Homo sapiens: one gene and its partners. The protein of the gene in region 1 purifies or fractionates together with the protein of each later gene. This does not show direct contact. Each region holds a gene or a part of one and is shown in the gene's direction. Other genes may lie near its edges. The genes, in order: NPTXR, FHIP2A, ACACB and EMID1.

Region 1 (8,614 bases):
TCTCTGTCGCCCAGACTGCAGTGCAGTGGCGTGATCTCGGCTCACCGCAACCTCCGCCTCCCAGGCTCAAGTGATTCTCTTGCCCAGCCTCCCGAATAGCTGGGATTACAGGCGCGCACCACTACCACCTGGCTAATTTTTGTATTTTTAGTAGAGACGGGGTTTCACCATGTTGGCCAGGCTGGCCTAGAACTCCTGACCTCAAACGATCCACCCGCCTTGGCCTCCCAAAGTGCTGGGATTACAGGCATGAGTCACCGCTCCCGGCCCTCTGTTATCTCTTTGTAACCCAGTCTCCAGACAACTGCCAGAGTGGTCTTTTAAAAACACAGTCCAGGTGATATCACTTCCGTGCTTCAGCCCTCCAGTTGGGCTTCGAGTCAGACCCACTCCCTTCCCGGAGCCTGTAAATCTCTACACGGCCCCCACCTTCCTGTCCAGCTTCCTCCCTCCCCTACATCTCACTCTGCCTCTAGCCCCACTCTGTTCCTTCTGTTCCTGAAATATATTACGCTCCTTTCTGCCCCAGGGCCTTTGCACTAGCGGTTCCCTCTGCCTAGAACACACCATCTTTCCCCAGACTTCTGCATGGCTGGTTTCCCAGGTCATTTAGGTCTGAGCTCCAATGCAGGCCTTTTCTGACCACCTTATAAATACTGCCCACCTCCCAATTCCCCCTTCCTACTTCCTGTAACTTTCTATAACATCACTTGAAGATTTTTCTTTGTCATTCTCATCATTATTGGAAATTAACTTGTTTACTTAGTTATTCATTTGTTTACTGCCTGCCTCCCCACTGGAATATAAACTGCGTGAGCTTGTCTTGTTCCCAGCTCTCTCCAATGCTTGGCACTATGCCTGGCACAATGTAGGTCTCAAAACATATTTTCTAAAATGAATTCCTATATTTGTTATATATGGCAGAATTCCCTTGGCCTAAGAATGGAATGAAAGTGAAGAAATTTAAAAAAAAAAAAACTAGGAGTCATGACAATTCAGAGGGAAAATATAGGAACTATTCCAGTTTTAGGGAAGTTCCCCTGAGAATACTTCTCTGCCCATCCCTTGAGGAATCCTGTGTTAGGATTAAGGGGGGTCTCTCCCAGGACCCAGGAGAGACGAGTTTTGGGACTTCTCTGTCCTCTCCTCCTTCCTCTGCCTCCAGCAGTGGCATTAGGAACTAGTTCAGCAAACATTCACCGAGAAGCTTCCCTGGGCAGGCTTCATGCTGAATGCTGGGGATAGAGATGGGCCAAGGAAGAAGGGAGAGGCTGGGCGCCATGGCTCACGCCTGTAATCCCAGCACTTTGGGAGGCCGAGGCAGGTGGATCACCTGAGGTCAGGAGTTCAAGACCAGCCTGGCCAACATATTGAAACTCCATCTCTACTAAAAATACAAAAATTAGCTGGGCGTGGTGGCGTGCACCTGTAGTCCCAGCTACTTGGGAGACTGAGGCAGGAGAATTGCTTGAACCCGCAAGGCAGAGGTTCCAGTGAGCCGAGATCACGCCACCGCACTGCAGCCTGGGTGACAGAGCAAGACTCTGTCTCAAAAATAAAATAAAATAAAAAATAAAGTCATTCTAGGAGATCAACAGACCAGTTTAAACACAATTTGACTCCAGCCTCTGGACCCATTTATCCAAACTGTCCCCAAAGTCTCAGGGGGCAGCTCAGGTAAAGGTGGCACCATTTGGTGCCCAAGTCACAGTGGCTCTGCTGCTCTTGGCAGCAGCCCTCTCTCTTGGCATCTCCTGTCCTTCCCTGGACTTCCTATGACAGTTTCTCCTGGGGATGCTATCTCCGTGTTTCTGTCTTCACGGCACACGTGTAGATGTACCAGGAGTCCCGATGTCTCATGCATCCCCAGGACTTTAGCAGGGCCTACCGCTGGCCTTTGCCTTCCAAGAGCCCAGCCCATCTCTCTGTCCATGAGATGCTTCCTCCAAGCCCAGCTGCCTGCCCTGGGTTTTGAGGTTACGACTTCAGTGAGCACCAGCACACATCCACGCACACACAGCACTCAGGTTCCTGGCATACAGCGCTTGTGTTTGCTTCTCTCCTCTTTCACAACTCAGGTATGGATGAAAATCCCTGGCTCCTAGAGATGGGTGAACAGGGTGGACATCATCCTAACATGTGTGGAGAGAGGGAGGTGGAGCACGTGTGCCTGGGAACACTGGACAAAATCCCCGTGGCTGGAGAGCGTCCCCCAGGGTTGTGGCTTCCTGGGAAACATTCCGGTCTCTCCCCACCACCAGCGCTATGTGAAGTACACTCGAAACCACAGTGGTAGCCGTGGTGGTCCAGAGATCCTGGTTTGCGCTTTCCCTTCAAGTCAAAAATGCAGGCTTGGAAGGGAGACAGAGCTGGGAATAACCACAGCCCTCCCAAGGCCCTTCCAGCCCTGGGAATCCGTATTGGTCAGGAAAGACCTCATGGAAAATTGGAGCTGGGGATAAAGTGTGGAGGATAGTAGGATTGTTTTTAAGTTTTTAATTGCAAAGTTAATTTTCAACAAAATATATATAGACATTTTTGACAGAAGAAAGTAAAACGCTCCTCTGCCACCCCCACAGCACAGCCCACTCCCATTCCTGCTGTTCCTTCTGGGCCTGGTCCACATGCCCACCAGGCACGTGGCACCGCTTGCCAACGAAGGCAGACTGCAGTGGGGGTGGGGGGTTTCTCTGGACCTGTGAGGCTCTAAGCCCCCAAGGATTCAGAGGAGAGAATTTCCATCATCCTCTGAGATCACAGGAAGATTCTGTAATGAGGGTGGCGGGGAGTGAACTCTGCTCCTTCAGAAGGTTGGAGGTGGGGGTGACGGGCAGGTGGCCACAGTATAAACAGAAGTTAGGTCAAAATCCGAGCCTCCCCCCAACCCCCAACACTGGCCTCTTCTCCACCTCTAACCGCTCCCACTCCAGCCCCATCCACAGTCTGGTCCGGTGAAACGTGCCTAAGCTCGCAGGCGGCTCCAACGCAGCCACCCGGTGACCTTGGACAGAGGCCTGACCTCAGGTGTCTCAGTTTCCTCATTTCTATTGTGAGCCTGTCCACGGCAAGGCTCAATTGCGACCGAGCTTGTGGCGCGCCCAGTGCACAGCCCCACCCGGAAGAAAGCTCCCTCCCGGGTGGATGTGAACATAACCGGCTTGGGGAGGGGGCCCGAGCACGGGAGGGCTGGGATGGGGGTCACCCAGGAGCCCCGCCGCGCGGCCCTCGGGTCGCCGGCCCCTGCGCTGTGACCGCGGCGAGATAAGGTCCCAGGCGCTGCCCTCGCTCCTCGCCGCATCCCCGGCGGCGCCCCCAGCCGGGCGCCCGGCACTGAACGGGTGCGGGGCTGGGCCGGGGCCAGGGCCGGCCCGGGGAAGCGAGTGGGGCGGGGCCGCCGCGCCCGCTCCCCCTCCCCGCCGCCTGCCGTCTTCTCCTCCTCCCGCCGCCCGGGCTCAGAGCGGCGGCAGCAGCGGCCGCGGCGACAGCTCCAGCTCCGGCTCCGGCTCCGGCTCCGGCTCCGGCTCCCGCGCCTGCCCCGCTCGGCCCAGCGCGCCCGGGCTCCGCGCCCCGACCCCGCCGCCGCGCCTGCCGGGGGCCTCGGGCGCCCCCGCCGCCCGCCTCACGCTGAAGTTCCTGGCCGTGCTGCTGGCCGCGGGCATGCTGGCGTTCCTCGGTGCCGTCATCTGCATCATCGCCAGCGTGCCCCTGGCGGCCAGCCCGGCGCGGGCGCTGCCCGGCGGCGCCGACAATGCTTCGGTCGCCTCGGGCGCCGCCGCGTCCCCGGGCCCGCAGCGGAGCCTGAGCGCGCTGCACGGCGCGGGCGGTTCAGCCGGGCCCCCCGCGCTGCCCGGGGCACCCGCGGCCAGCGCGCACCCGCTGCCGCCCGGGCCCCTGTTCAGCCGCTTCCTGTGCACGCCGCTGGCTGCTGCCTGCCCGTCGGGGGCCCAGCAGGGGGACGCGGCGGGCGCTGCGCCGGGCGAGCGCGAAGAGCTGCTGCTGCTGCAGAGCACGGCCGAGCAGCTGCGCCAGACGGCGCTGCAGCAGGAGGCGCGCATCCGCGCCGACCAGGACACCATCCGTGAGCTCACCGGCAAGCTGGGCCGCTGCGAGAGCGGCCTGCCGCGCGGCCTCCAGGGCGCCGGGCCCCGCCGCGACACCATGGCCGACGGGCCCTGGGACTCGCCTGCGCTCATTCTGGAGCTGGAGGACGCCGTGCGCGCCCTGCGGGACCGCATCGACCGCCTGGAGGTGAGCGCCGCGCGCCGTCGGGGGAGCCGCCCGGGTGGTGTGAGGGGCCGCCCGGCCGCGGTCGTCCGGCGGTCCCCGAGCCTCCGGTCTCCCGTCTGTGTTCCGGGGACGATCGCGCCTTCCTCGCTGGCGAGGCGGGGGGATTTCGATAGGGAACGCGGGCAGGCGTCTGGCACGGTGACTGAGGCACAGAGGGCGCGCCAGAAAGATTCGCTCCCCACCCTTTTCCGTCTCCAGGCACCTCTCTGAGCCTCAGTTTCTGTGTCTGTAAAATAGGTATAACAGTGTCCACTTGTAGTGGAAATTGAATCAAATGTAGGTGTGTGAAAATGCTTGGCACGTACTAGGACCTCATTAAATGTCCCTTTCATTTCCTTCTTCCGGACACCCCCAAATCAGCCCAGCTCCACGCTCACACTTTATGGCCAGGAGATGGATGCGCTGTCCAAAGGACTTGGGGTCCTCCCCTCATTACACAGAGCCGGGAACAGAGTGCCCTATAAGACAAACCTGGGTGCCCCTCACCACCTCCCTACCCTGAATCTCCCACTCTGGCTCAGACTATGACCCAAACCGCAGGAGCTCAGGTGCCAGGCGCCCAGCCTCACACACCTGGAAGCCCACAGCTCTTGGGTGGGGGCTGAATGGAGAACAGGGCCCCCCGAGCTCCTCCTCCTCCACTCACTTTTCCAGGCTTTCCTGACTCAGGCTTGGGGTCAGACACAAGGGGTCCAGCATGGGGGAACCCACTCTTGGCTCTCATGTGACCCTGGGCCAGTCATTTCCCCCCTGGAGTCCCATGGCCACCTTCCTCCCTGTAAGAATGAATTTGGGGCTCCCAGAAGTGCAAGGCAGACAGACTGGGCAGGACAAACATCCGGGACACATTCACTACCCCAGCCATGGCCTGACTTCCAGACCACAAGGAAGGGGGTTAAGCAACAAAATCAGATCTGTGGAAGGAAGAGAGAGAAAGAGGCCAAAGCCCGCGCTGCCCCCTCTGCTACCTCCACCCAGGTGGAGTGCAGCAGGCAAGTTGGAGGGAGGAGAGAGGCGGGGAGTAAATGCAGGGACCCCTTACTCCCGGGGCTTTTTAAGTTAAATCCTGGGCAAGCAGCACTGGTGATGCCCACTCACAAGGCTGAGGATGTCGTGGTCTGACAGCCCTCCAGGACGTCTGTACTGGTGTCAGCACCCTCCCCACAGGGTGTCAGAGTGCAGCCAGTCAGCCATTGCAGCCAACCCCTCACCTTACGGATGAGAAAACTCAGCTCAGAAACGTCCTAAGAGAGGTGGCAGAGGCAGGAGAAAAGCCGGGCCCATACCCACCTCTTCCCCGACTCCAGCTCTGGGGGATTTCTAGGATGAGAGAACCAAGAGCAGGAAAATAATCAGGAAAAAGGTGAAAGTATGCAATGAAGGGAAGTCTTAGTTTTCTCGCCTGTAAAATGGGGATAGTAATAGCACCTACCTCACTGGGATATTAGGAGGATTAAGTACTTTATATGAAAGGCCAAGAATAGTGCCTGGCACACAGGTATGTTCAGTCAATTTGAGTGATGGCTATTTTTATCATTAAGCTATAATATTACTCATTTTTAAAATACAGCCAAAACTCAAAATAGGAACAAACAGGTTTTAGGCAACAGGTTTTAGTCATGTAAAAAACAATTTTTGACTTTCATTGAATAAACTTCCTCGTGCCTGCCATAGCCCCTGCCCCCACGCCCAGATGGCACAGGTGGCTCCTCCCACGTCTGGGGCTGGCAGGCTTGGACCTGCCTTGGACCTGTGCCCCCAGCACCTGCAGCATTTGGCAGGGTGGCCTCCCTTCCGGTTAGCCCGCTGAGGTTGGGGGGATCCTGGCAGCTGGAATTTGGCAACAGGTCAGCCTTCCAGGCTGGGGGAGCCCTGGCTTCCCCATGTATACCTTTTCCTCTTTTCTGAGTGCAGCAGCCACAGACAGAGAAGGGCGGGGCCCTGCTTGGCCACCAGGTCTGCTTTCTGAGCGTGGCAACAGCCACAGCTAGTCTTTTGGGGGCCTCTGGGAGGGGCTGGGGCTGGAGCTGGAGCACAGCAGACACAGGGTGAGACCACTTGGCTCAGCGGAGTCCCATGCACCCGTTAGCCACTGTCCAATCTCTCCCCTCTCTTCTCATTCAGTATCCTCAAAGTGCCCAGATTTTCAGGGTCTCCTTTCCCTCCCAGGATACACTGAAGGTGCTCTTGCTAATGTCCCCAAGATGATAAATGAGGACTTCTCAGTCCTTATCTTGGGGGAACCCTCTCTGACACCTGACCCTGCTGATCATCCCCTCTTGCAGGTCTCCATGCCCTGGGCTTCCAGCCGCCTCTCACAGCAGCCCTCCTCCTCCCTCTGTCTGCTGCCTCTGTCTCCTTGCAGGGTCCTCCTCCTTTAAGGCATGTGCCCGTCTTGGCCCTCACTTTCCCTGGGTACACTCAGCCATGCCCTGAGGCTTCCCACACCCATTCCACGGAGGGGCCCCAAACCAAACTCAGTGTCCAGCCCAGGTTTCCTTCCCAAGCTCCAGACCCATCAACACATCGGCCTCCTGAGCATCTCTCTCTGGTTGTCCCATCAGCCCCCTAACCACACTGTGTTTCAGCTTGAACCAGGTACCTCCATGTGCCCTGAGAAACCATCCTTGGCCCCTCCCTCTCCCCCCAGTTCTGATTGGCCTCATCTCTGTACACGCTTGCAGCAGCCTCCTCTCTGGTCTCATGACTCCAGGCACACCCTTCCCTCCATCCTCCTCCAGGCAGCCCCAAGGGTCTTCCTTAAGCCCACCATGGGGCTCTCCTAACTCCTCGGCCTGCTCCTAGGCTACCACTTTGGATCTGGCCCCCGCTCCTGACCCCTCTCTCAGTTCATTCCTGCCTCTGCCTGGATCACCCCCAGCACATTCCTGCTCCACATCTTAGAGTCTGCTCCAAGTACACCTCCTCTCAGGAGCCATCCCTGTTCACACTCTGTCCCCTTCCTATCCCCACCTGGGCTTCCATAATCATCACACTTCCCTGCTGGTCCCCACCAGGCACATCCCTGCATCACCACCCCTCCTACAAAAGGGAAGGGAAGGTCTGATTGGCCTGTCCTCTCCCCAAAGCCTCAAGTGGGAGCCACATTTAAGGGCTTAGGGGAAAGTGTCTTCTTTTCCATTTTTATTTGTGTTGTTATTGTTGTTCATTGAAATAAATCAAAAGGTTTTGGGGAAAATGCTGCATTCAATTGCGTCATTTTCTCCCTTTTTGCAACCCTCTTTCAGTCCTTATCCATATGCAGCCATTGTTTGAGAGCTGCTGTGTAATTACCATTTTAATGATGCCATAATATCCTGGGATTCATCTGCAGCTCCCCATCCATCAGTCACTTGACTGGCTCCTGTTACTGGAGATGTAGGTTGTTTCTAATTATTTTTCTTCCAGATGTTCATTGCAGGATCCATTTCATACAGAGAGCTGTTTGTTTGTTTGTTTTTAAGTCTGTTGATTTTTTTAGGCTGAATTCCCAGGAGTGGTATTACTGGGTACTGGGTCAGAGGATATTGACTTTTTTTTTTTTTCTTTTTGAGACAAAGTCTAGCTCTGTCGCCCAGGCTGGAGTGCAGTGGCGCAATCTTGGCTCATTGCAACCTCCGCCTTCTAGGTTCAAGCGATTCTCCTGCCTCAGCCTCCTGAGTAGCTGGGACTACAGGCATGTGCCACCACGCCCAGCTAATTCTTGTTTTTTAAATAGAGATGGGGTTTTACCTTGTTGGTCAGGCTGGTCTCAAACTCCTGACCTCAGGTGATCCGCCCACCTCAGCCTCCCAAAGTGCTGGGATTACAGGCGTGAGCCACTGTGCCTGGCCAATATTGACTTTTTATGGCTGAGGCCAGGAGCCACTTTCCAAGAGTTGGCCCAATGATGCGGCTACAGGCCATGCATGTGTGTTCCCCTGTTCCATTTTTGTGCTAATTTAATGTATGTATACAACGGAACTTCAAGATTAATTTCAACAGCATTTCTTTGGCATAAACCACATCCTTAACCCAGCCCAGCAAGCTGATTGCCTCCTCCCATCCTGGAGTGGGAGCCAAATAACCATTATAGCGAACACTTACTGAGCACTTACTATGCGGCAGGCACAGTGCATTATCTTATTTAATCCTTGTAAAATCTCTGTGAGGGAGGTACAAAGAAACCAAGGTTCAGAGAGGTTAAGGAACTGGCCCCAAGGCAGCAGTGGAGCCCACTGTCTGGCTGTAGAGCCCTCGTTCTTCATCATCAACTCTAGACCCATCTGGAGGGGTCAGACGTCACCCACCTTTGGGAGCATGGAAAAGACAGGTGAGCTGGGCGCGG
Region 2 (7,299 bases), on another chromosome or scaffold:
CTGGTCTTGAACTCCTGACCTCAGGTGATCCACCTGCCTCGGCCTCCCAAAGTCCTGGGATTACAGGCATGAACCACCACGCCTGGCCTTCTTCTTTCTTCTTTTTTCTTTTTCTTTTGTTTTTCTCTTTGCAGGGCATTTTCTTAGTATAGATTCCTAATAGGGTCTAGGTAACTTGACTGAGATTAAAAATTTAATATGAATAGTTTGGCAAGTGGCTAATGTCTTCATGCATAATTGAGAACTTACAGTATCAAGTATTCATAACACTATTGTGTTATCACAATGCTAATTTGAAAAAATTCATAATACAAACATTTACTATTGTTTGTAACGGTGGTGATTTTAAAAAGATAGTAAAATACTAAAGCCCATAGCAGAATGTAAAGAACACTGGGAACATTGTAAGGAGGCCAAATCTTGTCCCTGCCCTGAGCATGATGAGTTTGAATTTGATCAAGTAACTTAGCTACTTGTCACATTTTCTAATTGTTAAAGTGAAGTTGATATTACTTTTTTAAGTCAAAGTTTATTATCTCAAAATTTGAGTTCAGTCCAAAAACATGGGCCAAGTCCATTTGTCATGTCAGAGAAATCTGGCTTGCTTTCCTTTCAGGTAAATACTGTATAAAGTATAAAATAAAGGGACCTCAAGTAATAGATATAAACACTTAACTACCAACAACTTCCAAAAAGGCTAGCTTGTTTTAAAGTTATTACCAATAGGAAGTAGAGACCATTTCAGAGTACAGTGAAACAAGTTTATCTTGTTGAAATTTATTTTCATTTTTACTACGTTGAGAAATAATCTGTGTCAGCCTTAAATTTCTTAAGCAACCTATGACCTACATTTATGTTAAAATAAACTACAAACCAAGGTAACACCACACAGAGAAAATACAAAGTCTAAATAGTAATGTATTTGTTTAAAGCCAAATTGTACTGATTTATTTATTTAAGCACCTGCAGATGGCGAAATTTAGTGACCTAAAAATCTTAACTACCTGCAGTGAAGAGTCATGTACAATTCTGGACTTAAGTTGTATTTTAAATTTTTTCTACTTTTTTTTTTTTTTTACTAAATGCATTCTTTTAAATTATTTTTTGTAAATGATTCCTTCATACCTAAAATACAATTTAATGTGAATTCATTGTTTATTATGAGTTGAGTCTCAGAGAAGGCTATTCTGTTGCAAATATTATCAAGGGAGGAGGAATGGAGAGAAGTTGGTTAATGAGTCCAAAAGTACAGTTAGAAGAAATAAGTTCTAGTATTCAGTAGTACAGTAGGGAAATTAGTTAACAAAAACGTATTGTATATTTCAAAGGAGCTAGAAGAGAACTGTGATGTTCCCAACACGAAGAAAAGATAAATGCTGGAGGTGATGGATGTCCCAGTTACCCTAATTTGGTCATTACACATTACACATTGTGAAATGTATCAAAATATCACATGGACCCCCCCCAAAATAGGTACAATTATGCTATATCAATAAAAAATACCCAAAGCCCCCAAGTATTACCAAGTAGGAGAATTTACTCTTAAACTATCCTTTACTGGGAATACATATTTCCTTTCAATTACCTTGCTTACAGCTAGGTTTTGAAAAAAAATAATAAATGACTTGGAGCAGTTTTTAATTCTTTAAAAAAATCCATGTTCATGAATCTAGTAGTAAGTTAGAAAGACTAAAATGGGCCTTACAGCATAGGACTTGAGAGTTTCTGTTTATGTAACAAAACATGTTCATCGTAGCGTCTGTAGCTGTGGTGATTTTCAAAAGATAGTAAAATGCCGAAGTCTGTAGCAGAACTGGCGTGTGCCCGAGCATTCTCCACTGAATGCCAGAGATTGACTTCCTCATTGCTATTCACTGTGATCAAGGCTTTGCAGGTTGTTCAGTGGCTGAGAGTGAAACATTCCGCTGTGCTGGCTGATGTTGCACTTGGTCCTGACTCCCTCTTCCCTCCACTGTGCTGCAGTGTCTGTCTCACTCTTGCCACCTGGGTTCTCTGCAGCCTCCTCACTGTAGTTAGTTTTGTTGCAACCAATCCGTTTCCTTTGGCTGCTTAGAAGAAGCAAACTGGAAGGGGTGAGAAGTTTCTATTGAAAGTTCTGAGCAAGTAGTAGCAACTCCTTGTGTAGTGTGCCTTTTGCTTTGTTGACATGACTCTGTAAAGCCCCTTTCTGTGAAGAATAAACAGACAATTAGAATTCAAGTAAAATCACGATATTACATGTAAAACAAGTGTGAGGAACTGTACACAGATATACAGTTGTTTGGAGAAAGTTAATACTCATGCAAGAAATGAGATGATCCCTCTCTGTAATCACCATTTTGAACCTTCTCATCCACTTTGAGGCATAGGGTCGTCATCAGTTCTATCCCCAAGTACTTTCATTTCATTCTGGTGACAAGGTTCTGTGATTCGACTTTATTTTACTGTATGTGTTTTTGGGAATTGGCAGTAGTTGAATAATCTGAGGTGAGGAATATCACTTCTAAAATTACTATATTTAAAAAGGTGTAATATCTTCCCATCTTGTTTTTTGGTCTTATGCTCAATGGGTCCTCTGTAATTAATATTATATATGACACACTGGTGCTTTTTTATGACCCCTTGAACAATTTCATTAATTGAATCAACCTGCATAAAATAAACATTCTGACTCTGTCACATATTTGTCTTTATATGTTTATATATTTTTTAAATCTTTAAAGTTTTAGGCCTGCAATATATGTAATTTGAGATGATGAGAGCTAGTTTAGTTGTAGATATTTTCATTGCAGAAGAGCATGCGCAGCAGGGAGGAAGATGGTGGATTCTGCTTTCTTTTTTTTTGTTTGAGACAGAGTTTCGCTCTTGTTGCCCAGGCTGGAGTGCAGTGGCGTGATCTCGGCCCACTGCAACCTCCACCTCCTGGGTTCAAGCAGTTCTCTTGCCTCAGCCTCCCAAGTAGCTGGGATTACAGGCATGTGCCACCACACCGGGCTAATTTTGTATTTTGAGTAGAGACGGGGTTTCTCCATGTTGGTCAGGCTGGTCTCGAACTCCCAACCTCAGGTGATCCGCCCGCCTCAGCCTCCCAAAGTACTGGGATTACAGGTGTGAGCCACTGGGCCTGGCCAGATTCTCCTTTCTTAAAAGAACAAATTGAAATAGTAAATTAAGCACACCGGTATACATTATTTTTAAATGTCTTTCTGTTTTTTATCTCTCCATAGCCATATGATGTAAACTTACAAGTAACCTCAGTGTTATCTAGACTTTCTCTCTTCCCTCATCCACACATCCACGAGTACCTTTTGGATCCTTACGTGAACCTCGCTCCTGGCTGTAGATCTCTCTTCTCTGTAATTGTCAGGGTGAGTTACTAGTTCTGTTATATTCCCTAGGATTGATAAATCTGTGCAATTAATATGTTAATATCATTGTATGCAGTTAGTGTCACATAATGAAAAATATATCTACTGCTTAAAAGTAATTATTATACATTCTGAACTACTATTTTTTCAATTATTTTAAATAATATGTAACTTTTATTTTAAAGAATTAGGTATGAGTCCTTGGTTAAAGATGATTATATGAGTAGTGAAAGTTTACGTTCTTTATTAAATAGTAGGGAAGGAAGATTTTTCTTTTTAGATCCTGAGGTTGTCTGTGTAGCTGATTTCAGGAACTGAAGTGCCTTGCCTCTGTGATGCAGGTTGTTGGAGACCTTATGCTTCGAATCCAGCGTATTCAAGACTTTACTCCCAAGCTTCTGTTAGTCAGAAAGCGGTTACTTGGTTTGGAACCTGAAGGCCCTATGTAAGTTAGTGTTTTACATTTTTTTAATCCAAAAATTTCAGTGAACTTAATGATCGGCTGCTATCTTGAATTGATTTATTGTCTGTTTTTTCCTTACCAGTATTGACCACATCACACTGCTAGAGGGTGTGATTGTGTTAGAAGAGTTCTGTAAGGAGCTGGCGGCAATCGCATTTGTAAAATATCATGCTTCCTCCACACCATAAATAACATCTTTCATGTAACTGGGGGAACAGAACTACTGTGTACATTTCACCAAAAAAGACTCAGTTCCACCCAGCCACAAGAGGATAAAAAGCCTTTTTAAACGCAGTATTGCTGTAAACTGGACAGAACCATTAAGAACCTATTGAGTGGACATTCTTGGTGAAATGTTGTATAATGTTGTTTTCATTGGCTTTATCATAATGGTTCTATATATACAATTGCACATTGTTGAATCCAGGATACAATCAAAGGAACTTCAGGAAATAAGCATTTCTAATGACTGTGAAAAGCTGCAATATTTCCAATGTCATGACTTTGATGATATTTCTGTTATATTAATGTCCTTTTAGGTAGCAAGGCATTTTGACATTCTCTGGGACTCAAATGCTTGTATTCTTTTGGATTAATAAGTAGCAAAAAAAAATCACTAATTTTATAACTTTTTAAGGTCAGAATTCTTATCAAACAAAATATGAAAACTGTAAATGAGAAAAAAATACAATTCAGAAACCATTGAATGAATTAATTATAGGCGATAAAAATGTGTAGAGCACCATTAACTTTCTTCAGCTTTTTTAAGAATAACAATTTAATATGATAAATTCTTGATTAATATAATATATCTATATTTTTAAAGAAATGTTCTTTTACTCTTTTGTGCACATAGCCATGTTAGTGATTTTCTTCATGTGTGGGTCCCAGTTTATTTAAACTGTGTCGTTTTCGCAGCAGTGTTCAATTTGCTCACCATTGGTAGTGTTTGCTAAAATTGTATTTTTTTAAGCTAAGTAACATGTACTGGGTTGAGAACCTTTTTCCCCCCTCTCCCTCTCAGAAAATTGCTTTATAAAATTGCTTTATAATTTGATTTTCTTACTGAAACGCATGGTGGTGTCTAGGTGGGGAACTGACTGATAACCCTTGGCAGCAATCAAAGTGCCAGTGGCTCCTCGATGTTTACATTTTTTTCTATTTTGTTCAGTCTTTTGTTTTAAATGATTCTAAAGAGATTAAAGAAAACAGAGTTTTAAATGTCCTATTTACATGTTAAAGGATTTGGGGAAATTGGGTATGTATGTGAATGGGTGTACATGTAGGAACCTGTAGTTCAGCAAAGCTGCGCTGGGCACAGCATGCTTGTACTTGATTGACAAAATCGTGTTTGCCAGTCCACTTTCTATTTTTCCTTTAAGTGATGCTGATCACTCAAATAATGCTTTTAAGCTATTGTTTGTTTTTATTTGACATGTTAAGCCGCAGCACTTTCTTCTTCATCTTTCCATTTACTGATATTTGGGGGAACAGGCTATCAAAGGTTCCGGCTTGAAGGGAACTGTCACTACCCCCTCTAGGAAGTTATTTTATGTAGCATGTTTGCATATACGCATTGTGTGGCATGTGCATAGAGGCTTGTTTTACACCTATCTGCTCATTTTGTTGTGTTAGCTTTTCTGGTTTATTTCATAGTTTGTTCTTGCTATTTATTAAGAACAGAATATCAAAAGATTATGAATAGCCTCAGCTCTAGAATGCTTACCACTGTTAAAACAACAAAAAGACTAAACCTCTAATTTCATGCAAATCTTTGTTAGCTTATTCTAAGAAATTTATTAAGTAAAACAAAGAAAAAACAGAAGTGGGAGATAGTTATTTTGTGCGTAATTTTCTTTAAATCATTTTGAATGATGTGAAGGCATTCAGTTTGCTGTATTTTTTTAATCACTTCATACAAGGAAAACTTCGACATTTACATTTCTAGATGTAGTAACAGTCTACTTTGATATATGAGTATTTAAACTAAGGCATTAAGAGATATTAGATATTTCTTAATGTTTTCATAGTGCTCAATAGGTGTAGTAGCAATGATATTACCTCTGAAACCAAATACTCTTTTATCCTTGATTCCACTATGGGACCTTATAACTAGTCCATGAAACCAAGCTCAGAAAAGCTTTAACTCTTATATTTGTGTATATGTATGCTGCTTCTGAAAATATAATTTTTCTAAGTTGTTGTAATGACTTTAATTTGTAATCAGCTAAGGCTTAAGATTTCATTTGTTTCTAAGTTTCTGTTTTTCATCCCTTCTTTTTTCTTTTATATTTAGTTCAGACCTAGAGCCAGTAGAAGCTCTCACAGTGAGTTCAATTTGTTAGTGAAACATTGTACTGCATCACCAGTTTTTCTTACCTTCTGTTGACAGCTGAATATTTCTGTTACTCAGTACTTGCAAAAACAGTAACTAAAATGCACTATGCTGAGTGGAAAGCACCGTCATAACAATTGATTGCCATAGCAAGTTCCAAAGTGAATTTCAGCCTTGCTTCACATTTGTATCAATAAATATGCACATTTTTTAAAACTTTCTAACAATATAGTCTTTGGATTTGTTTTTAGTTATGAGCCGCATTCTTTACTTGATAGAACTCAGATTTGTCTTAGCCTATTGCCATATAGTACTCACCTTATAACTATGTAACTTTCTCGTAATGTATCTGTTTGTGCAATATGGAAGCTGTGAGTGGATTCATAGCTTTTTGGTTTAATTGTACATTATTGTGTGTGTATATATGTATATATGTATATATATAAGGACCAAAATTCTTAGCTCGCTTACACTGTTGCTAGTGTAAACATTGTTACACTTAATTTTACAGGGCACAAATTATGGAATTACTTCATAAATTCATGGTAATGTTTTCATAAATTATTGCATTAACATACAATTGCCATTTAATTATGAAGTCCATCAGTATTGACAGAAGACGTTACAGTGAAGTGCTAAAACCACACTATATGGTAATTATATTTTGGGTTATGTAGTAAATCAAATATGCATGTCATTGTGACACTTTATGTGTTAAAACATGGTAGATAATCACATTTTCTGGGCCCTGTAAAATAGTGTTACTGTAATACTCTGTTTTGCCTCCTGCCTTGTTTACATTAAACAGGATATTTGGTAAATTTTTTTGTATTGAAAGTTGTGTAGGTTACTGACAGTGTTACCAGCGTCTGGAATTCTTGGTCCCTCCGTGGAGAAACTCTTCAGATGGTCATTGTGTACCTACTCTCTCTTCAAAGGAAGTTGTGATCAAGTTCAACTTTTTGTGCTAACAATGCATGCAGGACTAAGAGGGATGATCTAAAAAATAAATAATGTAATTTAAACAAAACGTCTTATGTTTTTGTAAAATTCTAATTGGGAACATTTTATCCAATGATAAATCTCAAACAATTTTTAACTTTTTGCACCCCCAGCACACAAAGGGATATGGC
Region 3 (8,080 bases), on another chromosome or scaffold:
AGCACAGTGACTGATGACTTTGAAGTGAAAACTACATGCTACACAGGATGTCAAGGCCTCAAGAGTCATTCTACTCCAAATATAGGCACGGCATTCCTGTGTTCACTCCCTCATTCATTTGCTAATTCAATGAATATCCATTGATTACCTCACTGTATGCCAGCCATTCTGGTAGACATTATGATATGGTGGCAAATGGGCCAAGCTTGTCCTGCATTCAGGGCACTTAGACCCTTGTTAGGGACTGCTGAGGTCAGTCCTCCAGGAAGACTCAGGATACTGAGCAGCACTTGAATGGAGTCATTGCTAACTTTTCATGCTGGCCACCAGGAAGCTCAGAGCTACTGATAGCATTCTTCAGGGCTTCTAAGCTGTCAAAAGCAAAAGGGGGCAGGGGGAGAATAAGGGGTAAATAAAAATGTTGGAAATGAGGCCAGGCGTGGTGGCTCACGCCTGTAATCCCAGCATTTTGGGAGGCTAAGGGGGGCAGATCACTTGAGGCCAGGAGTTCAAGACCAGCCTGGCCAACACAGTGAAACCCCGTCTCTACTAAAAATACAAAAATTAGCTGGGCATGGTGGTACACGCCTGTAATCCAAGCTGCTCGGGGGGCTGAGGCAGGAGAATCACTTGAACCCGGGAGGCAGAGATTGTAGTGAACCGAGATAGTGCCACTGCACTCCAGCCTGGGTGACAGAGTGAGACCCTGTCTAAAAAAAAAACAAAAAAAAAAAAAAAGAAAGAAAAGAAAATGTATGTTGGAAATGGGAGGACAGCTCACACAAGACTACACTGGGCTCTCAAGGTGCTTTTGTGAGATTTAAAGCGATCAGAAACAGTGCCCCTCCTCTAGGAGGGCAGAAATTAGCAAAGTTAGAGAGGACTGTGGCTGGAGAGCAGGAGGGTTATGCTGCCATGGAAAAAGTCGTACACTCTTAGACCTGAAAGGGGCCCTCCAGAGTTCAGAAAGCATTATTTTAAACAGTTGGCTCAGTCTTTCCATCTGTGGGTAAAGATACAGAGGCCCAGAGAGGGAAAGTGACTTGTCTAAGGGCACACAGCATGTGTGGGGGTAAAAGAGCTGAGGACTGACACCCAGATCTTCTGGCTCTCTTCCCTCCAGCTCCCCCCACATCCATTAGCCCTTGCTTGCTGGGCAATGCCTCATATACCCCCATCCCTGCCTCTTCTCTTTTAAGGGGTGGTGTTCTGGAACCAGAGGGGACAGTGGAGATTAAGTTCCGAAAGAAAGATCTGATAAAGTCCATGAGAAGGATCGATCCAGCTTACAAGAAGCTCATGGAACAGCTAGGTAAGGGGGTCCCAAAGGCTTCACCTCTCAGAGGTCAAGAGAGGCCCAGCTGGCCCACTGCTGGGGGTTTCTAGGATGTTAAAAATAAAATGAAAAAATACCAAAATACAGCTATAATAACTGTGAGATTTTTAAAGATATTCACATTTGTCTGTTTGTTTTGTTTTGTTTTTTTGAGGTCTGGCTCTATTGCCTAGGCTGGAGTGCAGGGTGCAATCTCAGCTCACTGCAACCTCTGCCTCCCAGGCATAAGCCATCCTCCCATCTCAGCCTGAGTAGCTGGGACTACAAGTACGCAACACCATGCCTAGCTAATTTTTGTATTTTTGTAGATGTGGGGTTTCGCCATGTTGCCCAGGCTGTTCTCAAACTCCTGGGCTCAAGCAATCCACCTACCTCAGCCTCCCAAAATGCTGGGGTTACAGGCATGAGCTACCATGATTGGAGGACATTCACATTTCTAAATCAACCTTTTTAACATTATATATATATATATATATATATATATATATATTGCCATCGTGAATTTATTTCTCAGCATACACAAAAGATAGCAATTGAAGTATTTGGGGCTGATGGGGATTATCAGAATTTTGGTGGCAAAATGTTCCTTTAGAATTCCCAATCAGAGATAAGATATTTTACTAATTTTGTTTGAATGACAGCTTTGTTTTACTTGTCATCTTTAGATGTAATTATCTTTATTTATTTATTTGTTTATTTTTGAGACAGAGTCTTGCTCTGTTGCCCAGGCTGGGGTGCAGTGGCGCAATCTCAGCTCACTGCAACCTCTGCCTCCCAGGTTCAAGCGATTCTCATGCCTCAGCCTCTCAAGTAGCAGGAATTACAGGTGTGTGCCACCACACCTGGCTAATTTTTGTGTTTTTAGTAGAGACAGGGTTTCACCATGTTGGCCAGGCTGGTCTTGAACTCCTGGCCTCAAGTGATTTGCCTGCGTCAGCCTCCCAAAGTGCTGGGATTACAGGCGTGAGCCACTAAGTCTGGCCACAAGATGATATTTAAATATCCATTTTAAGTGTCAGTGTCTTTATAACTGTGCTATTCACAAGATTTTTTACAGTGTGTGCGTGTAATTTCTTTGGCTGGTATCAGGGTAATGCTGATCTCATAGAATGAGTTGAAGTGTTCGCTCCTATTTTCTGAGTTTTTGCAGAATTGGCATTATTTCTTTATGTTTTTGATAGAGGTTTTTACCTATAAATTCAACTTCTTTGTTATATATAGGACTATTTGTGTTATCTGTTTCCTCCTAGGTGAGCTTTGGTGGTTTGTGTGTTTCAAGGAATTTGTCTATTTCATCTTAAGTTGTCAATTTGGCATAGAGTTGCTTATAATATTCCCTTATCATATTTTACAATGTGTACTAAAAATCATTGATATAGTATCCTACAAGCACGATGGGTCTGATGGAAGGGGAAAATGTAGAGTTGCATGTTGAATGCTGTCTTGCAATTGTGAGTGCATTTCTGAGACTGTACTAGCTATTTGATCTGAGACAAAGGGGGCCATCAAGATGGGCCTGGGGTGGGGGCCAGGCCAGTGGACTCTGGGGGACCTAGGGGGCTGAGGGCAGCCTGTGTAGCAGCAGGGGTAATATCAGAGTTAAAGCTCAGACCTCTCACAAGGCAAGGCCTGTCCTGCAAATCCTGATTTGTGCCTTCTTCAAAAAAAAAAAAAAATCTCCACCCCATCACATATGACCAGCTTCCATGGCTTGACTGGCCTTTCTGCTCACCTGCAGGGGAACCTGATCTCTCCGACAAGGACCGAAAGGACCTGGAGGGCCGGCTAAAGGCTCGCGAGGACCTGCTGCTCCCCATCTACCACCAGGTGGCGGTGCAGTTCGCCGACTTCCATGACACACCCGGCCGGATGCTGGAGAAGGGCGTCATATCTGTGAGAGCCACAGCTGCCGTGTAGGGTGCAAAGAGCCCACCCTGTTTTCCAAAACATGGAGGACATTTGGGCTCGGGGGCGGGGAGGGCGGTGGTGGTTGGGATGGGTCAAATGCTGCAGGAGGTGGGAGTCACCTGGGAACTTTAAAATAATCCCGATCCCCAGGTGGCACTGCAGACCAGTGAAATCCAAACACCTGGATGGAAGCCAGGCGGTCGTATTTTTTAAAGATCCCCAAGAGATTCTAATAAGCAGCAAAGTTCAGGGACCACTAGTCTGATGGCTCGGTCAGTTTGGACCTGGACCAGGGGTAGAAACCGTTGTTCCTGTCCAGCATTCACCCACCCCTCACCATTGCAAGGACTCCCACAGTCACCTCCTACCCATGTCCAGTGCTCATTGGTTCTCTTGCTGCATTGTTCTCCCTCCCAGCTGACTCATGCCTCACACGAGCCTGTGTTTGTGTCGGTTGAGGTAGAAGTGGGTGCCAGGTTTTTATGGGGGACATTTTTTCAACTATGGCCAGTCTGGAGTCCTGGTGACGTCCTGCCTCTGAGCAGGTGCCTTCTCCTCCCTGAGCCTCAGCTTACTTGCCTGGGATGATCTGGGAATGATCTCAGAGCCTGGGCCCAGCCCCGGGCAGCCACTGTCATGGGTGTGGTCAGAGCCAGTGTCCCGTCTCCTCCTTCCCTTTCCGGGGATTCAAGCCTGGCTCGTCCACAGGACATCCTGGAGTGGAAGACCGCACGCACCTTCCTGTATTGGCGTCTGCGCCGCCTCCTCCTGGAGGACCAGGTCAAGCAGGAGATCCTGCAGGCCAGCGGGGAGCTGAGTCACGTGCATATCCAGTCCATGCTGCGTCGCTGGTTCGTGGAGACGGAGGGGGCTGTCAAGGTGGGCCTGGGGTGAGAACGAGGCCGGTGAGCACAGGGGGTGCTGGGGGCTGAGACAGCTGGCCCACAGCTGGGTCCCTCTCTGAGGCATCCTCTGCCCCCTCCCCAGGCCTACTTGTGGGACAACAACCAGGTGGTTGTGCAGTGGCTGGAACAGCACTGGCAGGCAGGGGATGGCCCGCGCTCCACCATCCGTGAGAACATCACGTACCTGAAGCACGACTCTGTCCTCAAGACCATCCGAGGGTGAGTGGCCACCGCACCTGCTTCCCAGCCTCCTGGCAAGGACCCGAGCCTGGATTGACCCCTAGCTACCCGACTCCTATGCAGCCACTTGAACCCGCCACCCTGTGCAGTCTGGGGTTGTCCCCGCCCCCTCCCCGCTCCCCAGCAAAGAGACCACACTCCCTAATGTCGGGTCTCCCAGCACAGTGGCTGGGGTGGGACAGAGAGCCTAGAGGTACTCTGAAGGCCGTGTGAGATGCTTCCAACTCATGAACCTTGCTGGAATATGGACTTGTCCAAAGTCACAGCTGGAGCAGGGTTGGTCACAGAACCCACATTTGGAACCGCTAGCCTTCAGGCTGCTGTCTTCCACGCCAGTGTTGACCTTTCCAGAGGGTCCCCTCCCCCAATTGCCATGGGGTCACCCCGTGAAGGAGGGAGTCGAGCACAGGGGACCCCATTTTGGGGATGAAGCTGAGACTCAAGGCAGTGTCTTGTCTCAGGTCATGTCACAAAGCAGTGACCAGTAGGGACGGTGGTGCCTCAAGGCATTCTGAACTTCAGGTCACAGCCCCTCCTGCTGCACAGGACCATCACCCCCATGGGGACCACAGCAGGGACTCGGGAGCTCTGGGTTCTGGGGTGTGGCCCCACACAAGGACTCTGCCACCCTTGGGGCCACTGAAAAAGTGGCTGGAGTGATCCCAGCCCTCCTCTCACCTCCCCCACAGCCTGGTTGAAGAAAACCCCGAGGTGGCCGTGGACTGTGTGATATACCTGAGCCAGCACATCAGCCCAGCTGAGCGGGCGCAGGTCGTTCACCTGCTGTCTACCATGGACAGCCCGGCCTCCACCTGACCGTGGCCCGCCCAGCCACTCCCGGGACCACGGCAAAAGGAACCACCCAGACCCACCACCCGTACACCCTCAGCAGACCCTGAAGACTTGCTTTTAAACAAAGAAAATCCTGGGCACTTCTGCAGGGCTGCTGGTTCCGAGCTGACACCCGTCTTAACAAAAGGCCCAGGAGTGCCTCTTCCAAACAAAAACAGCCTCCTCTCCATAGCTGGGAAGTTTATTTTGTTTTGTCTCTGAAGACAGCAGTTTTATTGCATCACTAAATCTAATCAAGCTAAAACATCCCTGTTTCCTTTTGCAAAACAGTGCCTGGCATGTGGGATCCAGGCGTTCTTTAGGATCCTTGGATACCACATCGTGAAATCTTTTATTTTTTTACTCTGAGACCAGCACCAGATGTAAGTAAGCATCTCATATATTTCAGCCAAATAAATGGGCCAAGGGAAAAAAATATATATATATAGACAGGACTAGAGAAAACCTATTTTTGTAATGATGTTTCTTTGGATACTGTCTAGTCACCCAGAAAAATGTATGGATGAATTTTTTTTTTTTTTTTTGAGACAAAGTCTCACTGTGTCATGCAGGCTGGAGTGCAGTGGCATGATCTCACTGCAACCTCCATCTCCTGTCTCAGCCTCCTAGATAACTGGGATTACAGGTGCCCACCACCATGCCCGGCTAATTTTTGTATTTTTGGTAGAGACAGAGTTTCACCAGGTTGGTCAGGCTGGTCTCAAACTCTTGACTTCAGGTAATCCACCCACCTTGGCCTCCCAAAGTGCTGGGATTACAGGCATGAGCCACCATCTTCAGCCAGATGATTTTTTTATTGAGAGAGTGAAATGCTATTTTGTTCCCCAAATGGCGCTAGTGAATCACTAGGAGGGTCCCACTGATAGGCCATGTTTAGCACTGGTTGCCAGGGATTCTCTTTTTGAGAGAGGGAAAGCAAAATGAATGGAAGTACCCAGCTGGAGGTTTCAGGGCTTCTGGAGGATGCTCTCGCATAGCTCGAGGTCCTCTGCCCACCTCTTCTCTCCAAGGAAAATGAGGACTGCCCCTTCCCCCTGCAGGATTGGCCCCCAGCCTGCGCATGCACCCTCCTCTTGCCCAAGTGGGGAGCACAGAGGCGGAGAGGAATCCCTTACCACACCCACGGCCCAGCTTGCTCACGAGTGTCACCTCTGTGACGGTCACCACTGCTCCCTTGGAGGGCCACTTGAGTTACTGTTGCTTCCTCGCCTGCTGGCTTGATGAGCACCGATGGTGGGATCTGACCCCGAGGGGCAGAGCTGTCGGTGACTGAGGACTGGACTGTGGTGACCATGCCGATTTGCTCAGGGAGAACGTTGCAATGCACCCAGCAGCTCCTGGCTCTGCAGGCGGCACAGCCTGGGGCCCTGTGATCCTCTGGTTTCTTCCATTGGGGCGGAGTCGGGGATGGAGGGAGCTGGCCACAACCCACTGCTCTGATGGGTGGTTTGTCCAAGGATGCTGAATGTAATGCCTGGTCAATGTGGAAGCCCATGAGGTTGCCCAGGGAAGCCTCCAAAAGCTGGGATGCTTGAGGGTATCCAAGTTGAAAAAGACAAAATCTGACCATCAGCCAGTGACAGTCCTGGCAAATGAAGGTGGGGCGGGGCAGTGAGGGGTGGGAGAAGGTGAATGATTCATTATTCCACCCCGAGGTTTGCTGGGGTGAGGGGAAGAATCGATGCTGCTTTGGGAACTGAAGGTTTTTCTGTTGGGAAGGCCCTCTTGGTTTTGGAGAGAAAGACAAGTTATGAGTAGCTGCTACCCTGGAACGGTGGGCAGAGAGCCTACTAGGAAATGTGCAGAATAAACTATTTTTTGAAGGAAACACTTTGGCCTTGACTTTATTATCTGGATTGGAGAAGGCAGGTTGCCTCCAGGAGCAAAGGTAGGCGTTCACCTTTGCACCCTCCATTCCTGACACCACAGCTGAGACCTTGAGTGAGTTCCCATCACAGGGGCAGACGGGGATGCAGTGAAGGAAGCTGAAGGCTAGACTGAAATGGACAAAGTCATCCCTTTTTGAAAGCACTGGGGAAAAATGTTTTAGAAAATTATATGCAAGCCTAGTCTATACCACAGGCAAAAAGGGAGCTTCTCTGGAAGAAGGGGTTGGGGGTTGGCCCAGGCACTTCACGTGCGAGTTCCATTCCTTTCCACCACCTTGATCCACCCCTGTTGTGCAGATGAGGAAGCTGAGGCACAGAGAGGTGAAGGCATTTGTCCATGGTTATGCAGAGACGGAATCAAGTCTGCTTGGCTCCAGAACCCAGCCCTTTCCTTTTATGACCTAGGTCCTTGGTGGGCAGGCTTAAGCCACACTTAGGAGTTGGTTTTACATGGACCCAAACTGCAGAAGAACCCCCTACCCGCCCCCCACCGTGGCTTCTCAGCACACAGTGACTATTCAATTTTGTCTCCAAAACACGTAACAACAACTGTTACCTTGATTCTGCCTGACACCTTTTCCAGGCAATTCCCCCTCACCAGGGATGGGCCAATCAGAGTTCTCCATTCCCCCTGACAGTGACTGACGCAGGTATGGGCGTGTATCCCCAGTAGAGCCGATCAGAATTCTTTAGGGATGGCTGACAGTGCTGATGTGGAGAGAACCTACCAATGCAGGGGGAAGCCAAGCCCAGAGATAGAGGGGGAGATCCAGTCCTGTTGGTGGTACTTGGATGCCTGGATCAAGCCATGCCTGAAGTCAGTAGCCCAGTCCCAGGAACCTATCCATGGTTTTTGTTTGTTTGTTTTAATGTTTGCACTAGTTTGAGTTGGAGCTCTATCCTTAGCCCTGGAGATGGCCCAGTTAGCCCAGAAGACAGCAGTTAATTTC
Region 4 (4,012 bases), 9.6 Mb from region 1:
TTGTGTGAATGTCCCACAATTTAAATTTGTCTGATTGTTTCTTCATGATGAGATGCAGGCTAAATAATCTTGGCAGGGGCACCTGTGGTGCCTTTTATTGTACCTCGTTAGGAAGCTCATGATGTCAGCTTGTCCCATTGTCCATGCCAGGAATGGCTTCATGGAATTTTATTTTATCTTTTTTTTTTCTTTTTTTAATTTGAGACAGAGTCTTGCTCTGTTGCCCAGGCTGGAGTGCAATGGCATGAACTCGGCTCACTGCAACCTCTGCCTCCCAGGTTCAAACGATTCTCCCACCTCAGCCTCCAGAGTGGCTGGGATTACAGGCATGCACCACCACACCCGGCTAATTTTTTTTTTTTTTTTTTTTTTTTTTTTTTTTTTTAGTAGTAGTAGAGACAGGGTTTTTCCATGTTGGCCAGGCTGGTCTCAAACTCCTGACCTCAGGTGATCCATCCGCTTAGGCCTCCCAAAGTGCTGGGATTACAGGTGTGAGCCACTGTGCTCAGCCTGGAATTTTTTAAGATCATCTTTTTTTATTTTTTATTTTTTGAGATAGGGTCTTGCTGTGTTGCCCAGGCTGGAGTGCTATGGCATGATCATGACTCACTGCAGCCTCGACCTCAGGGGCCCAAGCCACCCTCCCACCTCAGCCTCCCAAAGTACTGGAATTACAGGTACACACCACCACGCCTGGCTAATTTTTTAATTTTTTCTTTTTTTGAGACAGGGTCTCTGTCGCCCTGGCTGGAGTGCAGTGGTACGATCTCAGCCCAGTGCAGCCTCAGCCTCCTGGGCATCAATCCTCCCACCTCAGCCTCCCAAGTAGCCAGGACTACAGGCGCACACCACCATGCCTGGCTAATTTTTGTATTTTTAGTAGAGATGGGGTTTCGTCATGTGGGCTAGGCTGGTCTGGAACTCCTGAGCTCAAGCAGTCCACCCACCTCAGCCTCCCAGGGTGCTGGGATTACAGACGTGAGCCACTGCATCTGGCCATTTTTTTTTTTTTTTTAGAGATGGGGTCTCACTATGTTGCCCTGGCTAGGCTCAAGTGATCCTCCCACCTTGGCCACTTAAAGTGCTGGGATTACAGGTGTGAGCCACCATGCCAGCCCCCCCGGCGTTTTTTGAGACATGGTCTTGCTCTGTCACCCATCGTGGAGTGCAGTGGCACAATCATAGCTCACTGTAGCCTCAAACTCTTGTGCTCAAGTGAACCTCCCACCTCAGCCTCCACAGTAGCCAGAACTACAGGTGTGTGCCACCACACCCAAATAATTTTTTTTTCTTTTTTTTGAGATGGAGTCTCCCTCCGTCACCCAGGCTGGAGTACAGTGGTGTGATCTCAGCTCACTGCAACCTCTGCCTCCTGGGTTCAAGTGATTATCCTGCCTCAGCCTCCCAAGTAACTAGGACTATAGGTGCACACCACCAAGCTTGGCTAATTTTTGTATTTTTAGTGGAGATGGGGTTTCACCATGTTGGCCAGGCTGCTTTTGCACTCCTGACCTCAAGTGATCTGCCCACCTTGGCCTCCCAAAGTGTCATTAGGTGCTGGGATTACAGGACAGCTACCGTGCCCACTCTAATTTTTAAATTTTTTGTAGATATGGGGTCTTGCTATGTTGCCCAGGCTGGTCTCAAACTCCTAGCCTCAGGTGATGCTCCCACTTTGGCCTCCCAAAGCACTGAGATTAGAGGTGTAAGTCACTGTGCCTAGCGAAGGTCATTCATTTTTAGATCCTGCCCCTGTAATACTCGAAAGGGGATTACTTTGGCATGCAGCTCGTGGTGACCCTGGGACCCCCAGGCTGAAATGGCCATTCAGCGGCCTGAGGGTCACCCGATCCATGTGATGTGGACAGGACAGCTGGATCACAAGGGTCAGCCCCAGCGAGCAGGCTCACTCATGATGGACATATTGAGAGACCTCTTAGTTGTTTAGATGGTTTTGTGGGAAGCAGCAACCTTAAAGGGTTGGCTTGTAATTATACAATTATGCATATTGTCTATCCCTTCACTTATCTGTACTGAGTAAAGGGCACCAAGAGAGATTTCCAGATGTTGTCAGAGCTGGGATAGTTCTATTTGTCATCCTGGTGCACTGTTGGAATTGAGAGATCTACATTCTGGAAATAGCTTTGGTCTGGACTAGGAAAGAGGAAGGAGTGAGGGAGTGTGGAGCGTTGTCAAGACTATGGACCATATGCTGGGGAAGGAAAGGATGCAGATGGGGAGAAAGAGATGAGGTCTCTGGCATGAGCCCTGGGTAGCAGCTGGTACCACTTGGGGAGTGGGGAGCCCCAGAGCTGGTGGCCTTGGAGGAGGGGCTTTGTGAGCCCAGTGCCACATCCCTGGGGTCTGGGAGCCAGAGACAGGGAGAAGCAGACCCGTACTGCTAAGAGGAGAGGGCTGGGCTGAGGGTGACGCATCAGGATGTGCCAGATTGTGGACCTGGCATAGTCTAAGCCCTGGGAGAGGTGAGCACTGTTTTCCAGGCAGGGAGCCCAAAGCGTGAAGACCTGGGGAAGGGACAGAGTGCTGAGCCTCAGGTTTCTCAGAATTTTAAGCGCAAGTTCTCCAAAAGCAATGTAACTCAAACCTTGTCTAATTTTATTGACATACTGATGGTCCCCAGCTTACGATGGTTCAAATTACAATTTTTCAACTTTACAATTGTGCGAAAGCAATATAGGCTTTCAGTACATTCCTCAACTTACTTCCAAATAAACCCATCGTAAGTTGAAAATATTGTATGTCAAAAATGCACTTTTTTGGCCAGGGATGGTGGCTCACGCCTGTAATCCCAACACTTTGGAAGGCTGAGACAGGAGGATCACTTGAGGCCAGGAGATCGAGGCCAGCCTGGGCAACATAGCAAGACCCTTGTCTCTTAAAAAAAAGAAATGTGTTTGGCTGGGCGCGGTGGCTTACGCCTGTAATCCCAGCCCTTTGGGAGACCGAGGCGGGCAGATCACCTGAGGTCAGGAGTTCCAGACCAGCCTGACCAACATGGAGAAACCCTGTCTCTACTAAAAATACAAAGTTAGCTGGGTGTGGTGGTGCATGCCTGTAATCCCAGCTACTTGGGAGGCTGAGGCAGGAGAATCGCTTGAACCTGGGAGGTGGAGGTTGCGGTGAGCTGAGATCGCGCCATTGCACTCCAACCTGGGCAACAAGAGCAAAACTTCGTCTCAAAAAAAAATGTACTTTTGACTTGTGATATTTTCAACTTACACTGGGTTTATCTGGATGAAATCCCATTGAAAGTCAAGGAACATCTATATATTCATTTGGGCATAAGTGGAAATACTGGTAAGTAGCCTGAACTCACTGATCGGAGTAATTAGGGTGAGGCTAATGTGGTGATTTAAAGCAAAAAGAATGTGAAGTAAATAAGCATATAGGTGGCCAAGAGATATAGTCATGCAGGTGTTGGGAGAGCAACTGGTGCTGGGCGACAGACATTAGAGGACAGGAGGGCTCCCAGCAGCTTCTGGGACTGCCGTTCTGCCCCTGAAGATTGGCTCCCCCTGCCTTCAGCGCAGCAGGATTTGCGGCCTTGTCAGAGAGCAGCCAGCTGGGATCCAACGGGACCTTCTGGGAGGTCCTGCAGGGGTTGCTTCCTTCCGTCTGCCTTGTTGTCCCCCTCCTGTCCTCACCTGGTCTTGTTCTGGCTGTCCATGGACCCTGGGCTGTGGCAGGTAGTGTGGGGCTGCAGGTGCATGTCCCGGGTGGGGCATGGGCCACCGACGGGCTTTGCAGGGTCCCCTCCCCTGCCCCCTTCACGGCTGCATCTGTCTCTTTCCTCCACAGGGGGAGGGGTTGCACCAGCTACGCGAGGCTTTGAAGATTTTAGCTGAGAGGGTTTTAATCTTGGAAACAATGATTGGGCTCTATGGTGAGTAGAGACAGACAGACGGACAGACGGCCCAGCCCCTGCCTGCCAGCCTTCCCCAAGCCCTCCTGGGGTGGAACTGGCCTGAGCCCAGTCATGAGGCTGGAGAAG

The links.
Region 2: the proteins of NPTXR (region 1) and FHIP2A purify together in Homo sapiens (affinity purification with mass spectrometry; one large-scale study listed by BioGRID and IntAct). This does not show direct contact.
Region 3: the proteins of NPTXR (region 1) and ACACB purify together in Homo sapiens (affinity purification with mass spectrometry; one large-scale study listed by BioGRID and IntAct). This does not show direct contact.
Region 4: the proteins of NPTXR (region 1) and EMID1 purify together in Homo sapiens (affinity purification with mass spectrometry; one large-scale study listed by BioGRID and IntAct). This does not show direct contact.

The regions. Positions count from the first base shown.
Region 1 is NC_000022.11:38,838,869-38,847,482, reverse strand, and holds the start of NPTXR (neuronal pentraxin receptor precursor), read left to right. Parts: upstream 1-3,454; 5' UTR 3,455-3,624; coding exon 3,625-4,248; intron 4,249-8,614. UniProt on the Homo sapiens protein: May be involved in mediating uptake of synaptic material during synapse remodeling or in mediating the synaptic clustering of AMPA glutamate receptors at a subset of excitatory synapses.
Region 2 is NC_000010.11:114,857,522-114,864,820, forward strand, and holds the end of FHIP2A (FHF complex subunit HOOK interacting protein 2A), read left to right. Parts: intron 1-3,227; coding exon 3,228-3,368; intron 3,369-3,709; coding exon 3,710-3,813; intron 3,814-3,913; coding exon 3,914-4,019; 3' UTR 4,020-7,196; downstream 7,197-7,299. UniProt on the Homo sapiens protein: Required for proper functioning of the nervous system.
Region 3 is NC_000012.12:109,261,158-109,269,237, forward strand, and holds the end of ACACB (acetyl-CoA carboxylase 2), read left to right. Parts: intron 1-1,199; coding exon 1,200-1,312; intron 1,313-3,074; coding exon 3,075-3,229; intron 3,230-3,952; coding exon 3,953-4,123; intron 4,124-4,231; coding exon 4,232-4,368; intron 4,369-5,078; coding exon 5,079-5,205; 3' UTR 5,206-7,069; downstream 7,070-8,080. UniProt on the Homo sapiens protein: Mitochondrial enzyme that catalyzes the carboxylation of acetyl-CoA to malonyl-CoA and plays a central role in fatty acid metabolism.
Region 4 is NC_000022.11:29,250,384-29,254,395, forward strand, and holds part of EMID1 (EMI domain-containing protein 1 isoform 1 precursor), read left to right. Parts: intron 1-3,546; exon of another isoform or gene 3,547-3,707; intron 3,708-3,819; coding exon 3,820-3,904; intron 3,905-4,012.